Regions from separate parts of the Homo sapiens genome. Here region 2 is linked to region 1. Evidence: fine-mapped expression QTL. Tissue or cell type: whole blood. Region 1 holds a variant in brackets; the other region holds the start of a gene. All regions are shown on one strand. Distances are from middle to middle.

What was found. PIP is the estimated chance that this variant, and not a neighbour inherited with it, causes the effect. A credible set is the group of variants that fine-mapping cannot tell apart.
Region 2: it holds the start of SH2D1A, and the variant in region 1 is the best candidate, but not a certain one, in a credible set for the expression of SH2D1A in whole blood (TOPMed, PIP 0.72).

What each region holds. Positions count from the first base shown.
Region 1 is chrX:124,371,423-124,374,166 of GRCh38, reverse strand. SH2D1A (SH2 domain containing 1A) reads right to left here. Exons shown (of 4, transcript NM_002351.5): 4 at 1,007-2,744. Among named protein-coding and RNA genes, the nearest start is that of SH2D1A, 26 kb to the right of the region's middle. The variant T/C (reference allele first, on the strand shown) is at 1,455.
Region 2 is chrX:124,345,319-124,348,081 of GRCh38, reverse strand. SH2D1A (SH2 domain containing 1A) reads right to left here and starts at 1,519. Exons shown (of 4, transcript NM_002351.5): 1 at 1,303-1,519. The coding sequence starts at 1,439.

The DNA.
Region 1 (2,744 bases):
GAACTAAATGACCTAATGATAAGAATTCAGCCTTTTACTACAAGTTTGGCCAATCACCCCAAATTAGGAAAATGTCCAAACTGGGTAGTTTAACTTCCCCCCTAGTTGCAAACTACAAAATAGTGGTATCCCATTTACTGCAAGAGAAAACATAGGTGTCAAAGTTGAATGTATAGCATCCTAACAGGAAGACCAGGCATCCTATAACCTTGAAATGCTCAAGGGCAAATCTGGGTTTTACTAGTAGTAGACTTTGGATTCTAAGCTTAACGAAGTGAATCAAATAAAACATAAGCTGATGTTGAAACATTATTAACAGAGTTTAAAGCTGTTTCTCACATTTTTAATTCTGTGTCCATTCTACCCGAAAGAATATCTTAAATCCAGCCCTTTATTTATAGCAGAGGACTTAATCAGAGGCATTCTCTATAGACTTATTCTACCTGTGCACTACCACAAAGGTTCCCTGCCTGTAACAGCCAAACAGACAATTACCTAAGCTTGTCTCCCTACTGACCTTATCTCTTAAGAACAAATTTCAGAGGAAATGAATAAGTATTTGATAAGCTGTCATGTTCCTTTTGGGCTTGCTGACACACTTTTTTTTTTTCTGAAGAGAGCTGCACACTTGGAAATATATTGTGCATTTTTCTACCTTGACTCAGCATCTTACAATATGTTAGCATGGCAATATTTTAGATACAGCAAGGATATGACCTTTCTGTAAAGGTGCAAGTGATTACGTACTGGAAAATAGCAAGGATGCTCATGTTGGGAAAGAAAAGGTGAAAAAAAAAAAAAAAAACTTGATGAATAAAAGGCCAGCCAAAGAAGACAGGAAGTAGGCTCATCAACCGGGAACTTGGACAGCAATAAAATCAGAAAAGCACTTACCTTTTCCAGGGAATCACTCCGATAAGATAATCATCAATCCTTTATTTGGTTTATTAATAGCATCAGTCTCTGAATATTTTATAAGGAATTATAAGGAATATTTCAAGACAAATTAGGTAAATAAAGCTTTCAAACACTTTATTTAAATGTGAAAGACTTGATGATTCAAAAAAAGCTTTTTTTCAAAAAAAGGCTCTTGGAAGTGAACATGCAAACATAATTCATATGTTTAGGATTATTCCAGAATGAACACATTATAGAGTTAAAATTAGTTACGCCTATTACAATTTAAACTCAAGCCATATAATTAAAAATTATTAAACCTATGCAACTTATTATGAAAGTAGGATTTTTAAATTCCTTTACAAGTTCATGTGATGCTTTTACCTCAAGAAATGGTAAACCACCCATAATGCATTACTCAGGCCACACTCCACTTTTGTACTCCCACGGCATCCATATTAAATGCTCAGAAATCAGGTCTTGCCAGTACATGGAGAATAGCTCTGTCTCTCAGCAGTTCACTAATTAAAACCAAGTTCACCAACACCCATACACAA[T/C]CCAGAATTCCCAGTTATTATTTTACAGTGAAGCTTAGCCTTTTCATATGGCCCATGGACCAGAGTATTTGCACTGACCTATCTATCTGCCTCTAAAGACCAGATCTACCTACACACGGGGAACCTCGCTTATCATGTACTTATCAACTTTCATTGTTATTTTTTCCTTGTCTTTTATTGTTATTTTCTTTCACTGTCTTTTATCGTTATTTTCTTTCACTGTCTTTTATCGTTATTGTTTTCTCGTCCAACAAGACAGTGAACTGAGAGCAGGGACCAGGTGTTTTTACTTCTATGCCCTCAGCGCCCTATTATGTTTGTTGAGTGAATGAATTCTGTGAGCCCTGTAGCAAAGTGACATATAATCAATCACAAAATCACAAAAATATAAATGTGAGAAGAAAATGCCGCATAAAATTCTGTATCTCGTGTAGGTTTCAATCACTTGGAATTTTTTTAAAAAATAATACAACCATAAACTTTCCAGTGGTTTTGTAGGGTTACTTTAAAAGGAGGCTTGTTACAAATCAGTTACTCATGAGCTGCAGCTGCTGAAATTTCCCTTCAAAATGAGGTCTTCCATGTAGTAGAAACAACTGGGGCAGAGGTAAATGAAAAGAAAAACTCATTTCATTGGATTTGTAATACAATTTCAAATCCTGTAGCATCAAATACGATAAACATGTTTAGAGCATATTTTAAATTATAAGATTTTCAACTCCAGGTTGGTCTGTGGATTTTACTGTCCAATATCAGAACACTAGGCAAGAAGGTTGCTTTCAGAATTAAACATAAATCCTTCACTCTTTGTTTAGTGCTTGTTTTAGCACACAGTATACAGCTTCAAAAATCCCAAAAGAGCCTATGACACCATAGCTAGTGGAGAACTTGGCAAAGACAAGGGACACCAGCCAACTTCCCACCATACAATCAAGCAAGACATTTTAAAATTAGTAGCTATAAAATAATATTTCACTAAAAATGGAGCTTTTCACAAAAACTGAGGATTATTTTTATTTATATTTGGCAAGAATTGACATTAATCCTTTATAAAGTATTCATTATCCTTTTGTTTCCCATTTGTAAATATAATAACTGAAAATAACCTACGGAATTACTTTTTCCCAATCCTCGTTTCAAAGCTCCTCACTATGTACAAAAGTCCATTTCAGCTTTGACGACATGCTAGATGCTTCCATTACAGGACTACAATGGCTTTAGAAATGCATTTGTAGCTCACCGAACTGTATTATCTACAATATATAAGACTTAGCATATATTTAAATTATA
Region 2 (2,763 bases), 26 kb after region 1:
GTTTTTAAAAAACAATATACAGTGAAAAATCTTCTAGCACCAGCATCAGGATAATCTTTCTTCACTGACCCATAAGGTATTTCAAACTCTTGTGGGGTATTATCAGATGCTGAACTTACTACCAAGCATTTAACCTCATTTGGTTTCTGTCTAGAACCTACAATGCAGGGCTGCTGTTTTCATGGATTTTTTTTTTTATCCTGCTGACAATAATGCCTGAGCTAGGTCCTTCCTTAGAAATGCCCCCATGATTCCTAAAAGAAATCAACTGAAAAGAGAAGATAAAATAATAATATATCTTTGGTATAATAATAATACCAATAGCTTACATTTATTGAACATTTACTAGGTGTCAGGCCCCAGTGCTAATTTTTTTACTGCATTATGGCACTTAATCTTACAATCCTATGAGGTAGGCAGTAATATGATACCTATTCAATGGATAAGAAAACTGGGGAACTGAGAGGTTAATTTGCCCAAGTCACAAACCTAACATCTGACGAGCACAGGACAAAGTCTCAGATCTGCCTGACTCCGGAGCCCTGGAGCAAAGACGCAGATGAATTTGATTCAAAATGAAGCCTTAGAATGAGACATGCCTAGGCAAATGGCAAAGCTGAATCATAACAAGGGTGTTTTCCCTCCATTCCCTTTAAGACTATTGTGAGTCCTAACGTTTATCAAGAAGGGTCCTATTTCTGAAATCCCCTGCCCCTCCCCACCCCCCACTACTTTTCTAAAGGATGCTACATCAGCAGATCCAGAGAGGTGATTTTACTGACACACATCCCCCTCCTCTCTCAGCATCTCGACCTAACTGGCATTGCATTCTTAAAGTAATTGACTCTGTTTCTTAATGTGCCTCCTCTCTCTGAATGTCATGCTCTTCCTTTGGGATGACACTTCAAAAGTCGTTTAAAGAGAGCTAGAGTAAGGCTCGCAGGGCGCCACCCGATAGGGGTCAAAATGGAAGTGGGGAGCCTGGGTCTTTCCCGGAGCGAAGGTAAACTGTGGACCACATTTCACCACCCGAAATGGCATTCTCTGCAGCTGCCCCAAAAGGCTCTGGTGAGGGCCTTCTGGAGAGCAGGAGGCCCAGGGAATGAAATCCCCAGCGAGGGATTGAGGCGAAAGTGTGTTCCACCACGGCCCTGGGCTGGACTTGAGGGTGGGCCACGGAGGAGGCGTCGGCGAGCTGCTAACGCCGGCGCCCCTGCCTGCCTCGGCCTCCACCCTGGCCCCAGCTGCTGTTGCCCACCGCCCACACCCTCAGCAGGCCCATGTCCACCGTATCATACTCACAGCACACATAGGCAGTACACGCCTGGCACGCTCTCGCTGTCCCTCAGCAAATAGCTGCCATCCAGCCCAGTGGCAAGCAGGAGCTTCTCGCCGGTTTCCCTGCTGATTTTGCCATGATACACAGCCACTGCGTCCATGGCCTGGTGGACTCTTGGGCAGGCCGAGGAGGAGAACTGTGCAAGGGAGATGCCGCTGCTACTGCAGCCAGGCACAAGTCAACCACCTGACTCCCAGTTCAGCCAGATGTGCAAAAAAGAGAGAAGCACCCCAACAACAGGATGTTGTCTACTTGCCTTAAACCTCCTTCTCACACTTCAGTTAAAACGAGCTCAGCAATTTAGTAGCTTGGTTCGATCGAGCTTGCCAAGGGCTTCCATCTTCTGCCCCCCAACACAGGGTTCATACAGAGAGGGGAGGAACATTGGAAGAAGGATTTTGCAAGATTGGGGCTGTACTGCCAACACACACCCTTGCACTCAGACGGGGATGCTTAGTAATGCTTCTGTTCTTGCGGTTTACTCAGAGGCCACCAGGAATAACTTAGCTCAACTAGCCCATAAGGAGTTGATGATAGAGGCAAGTTGTACATGTCTCTGTTGGTATGTGGACCCACTACGTAGGGCAAAAACACACTGACAAAATGAAAGGACCAAGAGCTCTGAGAACAAAACACTGATAGTTTTATCAGTACTGTCAGTATGCAATCATTACTGAACATGGCCATGAAGACTCCTACAGAATCAGACATAGTAGATGAACAGTGAACTCTGGGCAAGTTCTTCTTCTCCCTCTTCCTTCTACCTCACGCAGTCATCTTGAGAAGTCTTGATCCTGAGCAAATATTGATTTCTTTCCTAACACCTTGTCCAAGGTCCCAAAGTGCTAGTTGAGATACAAAAGTCACAATGTACATCCAAAGATGTTCCAGATGTATCTATTTGATGGGCTTTAGATGAGACTGTGAATCATTTAACTGGTGCTTTGCCTTTATGTGGATTTGTATGTGCCCTTTGGTGTACAGGGCCCACCTTTCAGCATTTTGTCCATAAAATCTGTTTTGAATCATTTGCAAGTTGTTGATAATTTTGTTGTAACTTTTATTCTCTGTTGTTTCTAGAAAATGTTATTTCTTCGATTGAGGCTAAACTGTCTTTAATATTTTAAAACCTTTCAACCTTCATTTTCTTCTCTGAAATAAAACATTGCTTCTATTTCAAAATGTGCTAGGTAATATTTCCGCAAAGCTTCCTGCATTTTCACTAGAGTAAGACTTTATTTATTGCTGAAGCTGAATGGTCTTGTACATGTACCTTTAGATTATGTAAAGTACTTTTAAAATTTGAATTTAAATAACTGAAGCTATGTCGTCTATTATATGCTTTCTGCAACTTCAGTGTGTAGTTCTTTGAGAATATGGCAAGGCTGGGAACTCAATAGCGAGAACGACACTTAATTCCTCAC